Regions from separate parts of the Homo sapiens genome. Here all the other regions are linked to region 1. The links come from fine-mapping of genetic effects on gene expression. A gene starts in region 1. Each other region holds a variant in brackets. All regions are shown on one strand. Distances are between the middles of the regions.

Region 1 (2,766 bases):
TTACAGAAGTTGGCTGGGCATGGTGACTCATGCCTGCAATCCCAGCACTTCGGGAGGCCGAGGCGGGTGGATCAGCTGAGGTCAGGAGTTTAAGACCAGGCTGGCTAGAATGATGAAACTCTGTCTCTACTAAAAATACAAAAATTAGCTGGGCACGGCGGCGAATGCCTCTAATCCCAGCTACTCGGAGGCTGAGGCAGGAGAATCACTTGAACCTGGGAGGCGGAGGTTGCAGTAAGCGGAGATCTTGCCACTGCACTCCAGCCTGGGTGACAAGAGCAAAATTTCATCTCAAAAAAAAAAAAAAAAAAAAAAGTCAAAGATTACAGAAGTTGACAAAAAGGTTGAAGGAGAGGATTATCATTTCAACCAAGAAAAACATGTATCTTTTTAAGGGTATAAAGAACGAACAACAACGATTCATGACTTGGGAATCATGTGCAGCGAGGTATAGCACAAGTAGAATTTTTTGAGATATAAATTTGAGAAGTTTTAGAAAAGAAATAGATTGTAGAATTTAAAATCAAAAGCTCTTGTAATTCACTAAGAGCAAATTTATACTTTAAGACAATGTTATTTTAACATAGAGGACCAAAATCTCAATCTTTAGAAACACTTATAACTTTTTTTTGATTATAGCCAACTTAATCACATATACATTTAAAAAAATTTTAAAGAACTTTATTATAATTTCTTTTTTTTTTTTTTTTTTTTTTGAGATGGAGTCTGTTGCCCAGGCTGGAGTACAGTGTCACTATCTTGGCTCACTGCAAACTCCGCATTCCAGGTTCAAGTGATTCTCCCGCCTCAGCCTCCCGAGTAGCTGGGACTACAGGCATGCGCCACCATACCTGGCTACTTTTTGTATTTTTAGTAGAGATGAGGTTTCACCATTTTGGCTGTGCTGGTCTCGAACTCCTGACCTTGTGATCCGCCCACTTCAGCCTCCCAAAGTGCTGGGATTACAGGCATGAGTCACCACGCCAGGCCTATTATGATTTCTGTAGACTATTTATGACATGTTTGAACTTTTGTTTTGCCCTACCCTTTCTCTTTTATAATTAACCTGTCATTTTGCTTTAGGAAAATAATTTACCATGTAATAAATTATTATCATGCAGTGGCATGATCAGCTCATCGTAACCTCAACTCCTGGGCACAAGCAATCCTCCCTTCTCAGCTTCCTGAGTGGCCAGGACTACAGGTAAGTGCCACCATGCCAGACTAATTTTCAAAATTTTTGTAGAGACAGTATCTCACTGTGTTGTAGAGACAGTGTCTCACTATGTTGCTTAGGCTTGTCTTGAACTCCTGATCTCAAATGATCCACCTGCCTTGGCCTCCTAAAGCATTAGGATAACAGTCATGAACCACTGTGCCCAGCTTTTTTAAAAATTTAATATATATATATTTTTTAAATGGAGATGAGATCTCATTATGTTGCCCAGGCTGGTCTCAAACTCCTGAGCTCAAGTGATTCTCCCACCTTAGGGTCCCAAAGTGCTAGGATTACACACATGAGCCACCATGCCTGGCCTGTGCTCAGTTTTTTAAGTTTTTTTCTATTAACCATTTTTATAGCCTGTGAATGTCAGATATTTACCTAAGCAAGAAATTTAAAGTTAAATACATGGGTATTTTGTTGATAACTCAGAAGGTTTAGCTGTATTTCTTAAACCAACAATATTAAATTAGTCTTACTTATAAAAAAAATCACACAAAGATTATTTTGGTTTTGGCTGGGTTCATAGTTTTTTACCTTTGTGCCAAATCCTGACCCTGTAAAATATTTAATAAGACAAGTATAAATCTGACCATAAATCTAGGCAAATATGTATGTTGACAATTTTGAAGACATTTTAATATTTATTTTACTAATAATTTTAAAGCCAGTTTATTTATTAAAGAATTACTTAAGTCATGTGAACTTGGAAAACCTTTGGGCTTACTAATTTATGAGTGCTCATTTATCTATAAGTCAATTGGGTATCATGTAGATACAACATATAACATATTACATGTATATATGTAAACACATCTAAACACACATATATATGCACAAATAGAGATCTTATACCTTTATTTTTTGATTTGTCTTTTGAAACAGGGCCTCACTCTGTTGCCCAGGGTAGAGAGCAGTGGTATGACCATGGCTCACTGCAGCCTGGACCTCCCAGGCTCAAGTGATTCTCCCACCTCAGCCTCCTGAGTACCTGGGACTACAGGTGCGTGCCGCCATGCCCAGCTAACTTAAAAAAGTTTTTTTTTTGTAGAGTCAGAGTCTCACTATGTTGCCAGGGCTGGTCTTGAGCTCCTGGGCGCAAATGATCCTCCTACCTTGGCCTCCCAAAGTGCTGGGACTGCTGGCATGAGTCACCTCATCTGGCCCTTATAGTTTTCATTTTAGAATTTTAGTCATGAGATAGTAATACAAACTCACCAGTTTATAAAAGATAGTTGGATCTAAATTATTTTTGGAAAAAATTGGGACCTGTTAGTTCACATGGCTAAATTTTATTTGTCCCAATAGGTAATCTAATGAAGGCTGTGAGCCAAAATTTTTGGGTAAGGTAGTTCGATGGCAGTTTTATTTTAAAAATCTTTTATCCTTTTATTCAGTTTCAAATGAGTTTAGAGTTAGGTTTTTAATGTTAACATTTTAGCTTGAACTGGCTGAATCGTATAAGAAAAACAAAATTTCTAAGTCTTCTTAAGTTAGTAATACTATAAACAGTGAGCTTTATCTCAACACAAGTAGAAAAGTCA
Region 2 (2,766 bases), 150 kb after region 1:
CAGCCTCCCAAGTAGCTGGGATTACAGGCATGCGCCACCACACCCAGCTAATTTTATATTATTTTAGTAGAGATGGGTTTTCACCATGTTGGTCAGGCTGATCTCAAACTCCTGATCTCAGGTGATCCTCCCACCTCAGCCTCCCAAAGCACTGGGATTACAGGCGTGAGCCACTGCACCTGGCCTAAAATTGTTTTTTCTTGACTTTTGTCTATATGTGTTAGTTTGAAATATCAGTTGTAATTATTTTTTTCTGCTTGGTCTAGTCTGTTGATAAAATTTTCAACAGCTTGGCAATCATAAAGTGAAGTTTTCAGTTCCAGAAGCTCTAATTGATTCCTTTTTAAGATGTTTATCTCCTTTTTCATTTCCTGGATTGTTTTATTAGATTCTTTGTGTTGATTTTCAGTCTTTTCTTTTATATCTTTGAGTTTCTTCCAATCCATGCTTTGAATTATTTATCTGACATTTCTGAGTTTCCATTTTGGTTGGGGACCTTTCCTAGAGAGCTACTGTGATTCTTTGGTGGTGTTACAAAAATTGGATTTTTCTGGTGCCAGCATTCTTATGTTGCTTCCTTCTCATTTGTAGGTGTTGGCACTTCTAAATTTTTGTTTTTTGAGACAGGTTCTCACTCTTTTGCACAGGCTGAAGTACAGTGAATCATGTCCCACTGTAGCCTCGACCTCCCAGGCTGAAGCAATCCTCCCACCTCAGCCTTCCAAGTAGCTGGGACTATAGGCGTGTGCCATCATGCCTGGCTAATTTTTTAATTATTTGTATAGACAGTGTCCCACCGTCGTCTTGAACTCCTGGGCTCAAGCAATCCTCCTGCTTTGGCCTCCAGGGTTGGAGTGCTGGGATGGATTACAGACATGAGTCACCGTGCCTGGCTGGCACTTCAAATTTTTGTAGATATTTTCATGCAGGTAGGGTTTTCTTTCCCTTTCTTTTCTTGTATTATTATTGTTTTTTCCCCCTTTCCTTCCCCCACTCACTAAAGGGTGTGACTTAAGAGTATGTCGAGTAGGGTCTTTTGTCTTTGTTTCCATGGCCTTCTGTTCTGGCAGCAGGTTGTATATTGGGCTGTGGAGTTCAACCTACGGGCCAGTAGATGATGCTTACGGGTGAGAGTCAGCTGTGGTGGAAGCAGACAGTTATGTACTTGGTATTTGTTTACTGTGAAGAACTCTCTGTTGTTCCAGGTGATAGGCTAGACTGTGGAGGGCTGCATACCATGTACTTCCTATTTTACGGGAGTGCTGGGGACATAGCTGGGTAGAGTGGATAACCTGGCTTGTCCACAAATACCCCTATGTCAAATGTAGAAGTGTAGTCCCCAACCCTGATGAGGGT[G/C]GCTAGGAAAAGCTCCCAGTGAATTGTGCCACAGTCTCTGTGGGGGTTTGGGGTGCTACACAAGCCCCTTCTAGATAGACTGGAATGTAGATTGTTGCCCAGTCACACCCTTGTTCTAGAGCTCTTGACTCCTGGATCAGACACACACTGCAGCCTATCTCCAGACCACCATGTGGTTGAGAGCCTTAGGAAATGTCTAATTTTTGACTCTCCAGGGGAGTGGTTTTTGGGGCAGAACTTCATCACTTAGCTTAATATAGGTAGCTGTGTGGCTCCTCTGCTCTCCAATGTGATGACTCTTCTTCATTTAAGAGCGGGGTTGGGGGACTCCTTCTTTGGGCCTCTGCAGGGGTGTGTTGGTTTTGGTGGTGTTGGCTGGTTGCGTCGGTTCAACCTCAGGCAATGGGAGATGTGGTAAAGTACTAGCAAAATTGGAATAGGGTAGGGAGATCTGTAAGTCCCTAGTTAGTCCCTAGATGGCTGGCTGGACTTCCTCTATGAGTCTTGATGGGGCTGGATTGTTGGGGAGCCTCAGGTCCTGGCTGTGATGGGAAGGGGTGAGGGCTGATATCTGGGTGAGGGGCTAAACTCTCAGGCAGGGCACTTAGGCGGTGGGAGCCCTAGGGAAGATCACAGGTCTATGGGGGTAAGGTTTTCGACAGGGCTTTGGGCCATGACTGAAATGCTCATGTAGGGGTCGGCTATGTGCAGTAGAAGCCAGAAGGCAGCAGTCCTGGTTGGGGAGTGGGCAGTGGAGGAAGGGGGTCATGTGGAAAGCATTCTGGCCACCTCTCTGAAGGGTAGCTGCTGGCACTGGAGTTTCTCTCCCCAGCCTGGGGGCAGCAGGGGTGGCCACGGCAGAGGACCTGTTCAGTTGCCTTTGGGAGTGATGGTGATGGGGGGTGTACCTGGGAAGAGGGAATGGGGAGCAGGTTGGGTACTCCTCTCTGCTGATGGAGGTGCTTGAAAGCACCTTTGTTCCCTCCCTAGCCTAGAAGTAGCAAGGATGGGTACTGCAGCAGCTGCAGTGGCAGAGGGCCTGTCAGTTGCCTTTGGAAGCTCCACCCTAGAGAAACAGAGCTGCTACTCACTGAAGTGATTATGTGGGGGTAGGGGTGCCTGTGCTGGCGGCCCAAGTCAGGAGGCCCTGCCCTGTAAGGAGCAGCAGGGGCTGGGCCTCTGAGAGCAAAGAGTCTGGCCACCTTTCCTGAAGGCAGCTGCATCCTGCTGGAGGTCTACTTACTCTCAAGGCAGCTGCATCCTGCTGGAGGTCTACTTACTCTCAGGCTCTTCACTCCCTCCCCAGCCTGAGAGCAGCAGGAGCAAGGACCTGACAGAGGCAGTTGCAGTGGGCCTGTCAGTTACCTCCGGGAGCTCTGACCCAGTGAAATACAGAGCCAGAGCCGTGAC
Region 3 (2,766 bases), 21 kb after region 1:
TGACCTCTGAGCTCAAGTGATCCTCCCTACTCAGCCTCCCGAGTAGCTAGGATTACAGGCACGCACCACCACACCCAGATAATTTTTTGTAGAGACAGGGTCTCACTAAGTTGCCTAAGCTCAGTCTTGAACTTCTGGCCTCAAGGGATCCCCCTACCTTGGGCTCTTTACCAGCATTTTCTTGTATTTCTCCTCATCTTCAATAGCATTCAACTGAAACATCACCCACGTTCATCATCTCTCCCTTTTCTACACCATGGCCTTGAGTAAAGCAAGTGAGATAGCAAGGGAGATACGAATCAGAACAGCTAACCATAACAGCTGACTCTTATATACTGTTTAGCATATGCCAGTTTCGTTTTCCACCAATGTAATAATTGAACACTTAGAACAAGTGGGGATATATATATATATATATATATATATGTATAACACATATATATATAAAACCATATATTATATATATAATCATACCCATTGTACAAGTGAGAAAACTGAGTTAACAGAGAGGTTTAGTAACTTGCCCAGGGCCGTGGAGCTTTTAAATAGATTCAGCGCTAGAGTCCATGCACTTAAACACCATACCTTTCCTTGTAATATGCATGTGCGTGTGTTAACTTCATTGAAGTAAAATATAAAATGCAGAAAAGTGCACAAGTCGAAAGCATACGACTCAGCAGATTTTCATAAAGTGAGCACACCCATGTACTAGCACCCAGATGAAAGAGCAGAGCACTCTCAGCCCTCCAGGAGTTCCAGTCATCTCCCTCCCCAGTCACTGCCCCCTCCTCCCTAAGGTTAACTGCTCTTCTGACGTCTCTCTCCATTCTTCTGGGAGTTTCCTTCCCATCCTATTTTAATCCACTCATATTTTAAGCATCATGGGGTTTGTGGCTAAAGTTAGAAATATTCTATATATTCCATCTTGCAGTAGAGGTGGCAGTGGTTGGGAGAACACATTTCCTAGAGAAGAGAAACAATTGAGGATGGGGGGTTTAGGGGGTACTTGCTTTAGTTTCCCCACATTCTCTTTGCCAGTAAACCTAAGTAAGCTTCAAACCTTGACTCCATCCCCTCCCCACCAGGACTACATCTCCCAGCAGGCTGTGCTCTGACAGCTCTTGGATTTAAATAGGATTCTGGGCTCTGCTCAGAGTCAGGCTGCTGCTCAGCACCCAGGACGGAGAGGAGCAGAGAAGCAGCAGAAGCAGCCAAGAGCTGGAGCCAGACCAGGAACCTGAGCCAGAGCTGGGGTTGAAGCTGGAGCAGCAGCAAAAGCAACAGCAGCTACAGAAGTTGGAACGATGCTGGTCACCTTGGGACTGCTCACCTCCTTCTTCTCGTTCCTGTATATGGTAGCTCCATCCATCAGGTTTGTCTTAATTCAGCAACTCAAACAATCGTTTACAAAGACCTGCACTGGAAGCCGGTTCTCAGCTGCTGAAAGAAGAGAAAGGGAAGGAGGCTGACAGAGGAGAAAGTCAGGGCAGGAAAAGCAGGAAGGAAGGGGGTGTTGTGGATACCATGGTGGAAAACCAGAAGGAAGCATCTGCGGCCGGGCAGAGGTGGGGCTGAGTTCTGGCCCCACCTGAGCTCTGGGGAGAGTTCTACTGCCAGCGGAAGGCTGCATGGATGACTCTGTCAAGTAGCTCAACAAACACCTTAGGTGGGAGTCCTTGC[G/T]TTTTCATTTTATTCCTTTGGGTGTCTCTGAAGAACTCGGAGACTCTGTCCCTATTCAGGGTGGCCCTGCTGGCTTGTCATGCTGTTAAGTACCAGGTAGTTTGGGAAAGAAACAAACTCTTCTGCCTTTGAGACTACCCTCAATTAATGTTTTGGGATGGCTTTTTTGCTGTGGGATTTCTAGAGGTGTCAAATAAAAGTGTGTTCTGAGTGGAGAATTTTTAAATTTCTCTTTTTTAATTTTTGCTCTGTCACCCCAGGGTGGAGTGCATTGGTGTAGTCATAGGTCACTGCAGCCTTGAACTCTTGGGCTCAAGCAACCCTCCTGCCTCAGCCTCCCAAGTAGTTGGGAATATAGGCAGGTGCCACTACACCCAGCTACTTTTTAAATTTTTTGTGGAGATGGGGGTCTCACTATGTTGCCCAGGCTGGTCTCAAACTCCTGGGCTTAAGCGACCATCCCACGTTGGCCTCCCAAGATGTTGGGATTACAGGCATGAGCCACTGGGCTCAGCCTAAAAAATTTCTTATGATAAAGGAGGTTAAATGGACCTACCAAGGACAGTGTTATTCTAGGTTCTCCATAGAGATCTGGGTTCAAGTCCCACTTCTGCCACCACTATGTGACATGAACCTCCCTGAGCCTCAGTTTTCTCTACTGTAATGTGGAAATAATACTGGAGAAGTTGAGAGGATTAAAATAAATTACATATGGAAAGTGCCTAGACTAGTAATTGGCAGTCAGATGATGTGCAGGAAATGTTAGTTCTGCCCCTCCGTATTCTGTTTTAGGACCTGTGAAGTCAACTTCATGTAAAAGAGTGCTCTCTGCACAGAGGTCTGAACAAAGGAGGTTTTCTCTCTGTTTGCCATCGGCCAGAATGAAATCTCTAATACAATGGCTGAAAGCCTCGGAAATGACCCACTCCCTAAAACTGGAGAGGCAGCCTAAGATCAGTACCTGTGTATGCCATCCCCCAGAGTGCTAAGAGCAGTACCTGTGTGTGCCACCCCCCACAGAGTGCTGTTCATCAGTTACTCATGATGATGGTTACTGAATATTGACTCCGCTAATGTTTATCATGC

Direction of the effects. Positions count from the first base shown, and alleles are read on the strand shown. Sizes are in standard deviations (SD) of each study's normalised expression.
In carriers of allele C in region 2, the expression in thyroid of the gene that starts at base 1,155 in region 1 tends to be higher than with G alone (moderate effect, 0.41 SD a copy in GTEx).
As copies of T replace G in region 3, the expression in sun-exposed skin of the gene that starts at base 1,155 in region 1 goes up (small effect, 0.16 SD a copy in GTEx).

The links.
Region 2: its variant is fine-mapped to the expression of RDH12 in thyroid (GTEx, PIP above 0.99).
Region 3: its variant is fine-mapped to the expression of RDH12 in sun-exposed skin (GTEx, PIP above 0.99).

Annotation. Positions count from the first base shown.
Region 1 is chr14:67,700,732-67,703,497 of GRCh38, forward strand. RDH12 (retinol dehydrogenase 12) reads left to right here and starts at 1,155. Exons shown (of 9, transcript NM_152443.3): 1 at 1,155-1,204. It also overlaps a transcript of GPHN not described here.
Region 2 is chr14:67,849,398-67,852,163 of GRCh38, forward strand. All of the region lies in intron 4 of RAD51B (RAD51 paralog B), which reads left to right. Among named protein-coding and RNA genes, the nearest start is that of RAD51B, 31 kb to the left of the region's middle. The variant G/C (reference allele first, on the strand shown) is at 1,357.
Region 3 is chr14:67,721,339-67,724,104 of GRCh38, forward strand. RDH12 (retinol dehydrogenase 12) reads left to right here. Exons shown (of 9, transcript NM_152443.3): 3 at 1,086-1,372. The coding sequence starts at 1,305. It also overlaps a transcript of GPHN not described here. Among named protein-coding and RNA genes, the nearest start is that of RDH12, 21 kb to the left of the region's middle. The variant G/T (reference allele first, on the strand shown) is at 1,681.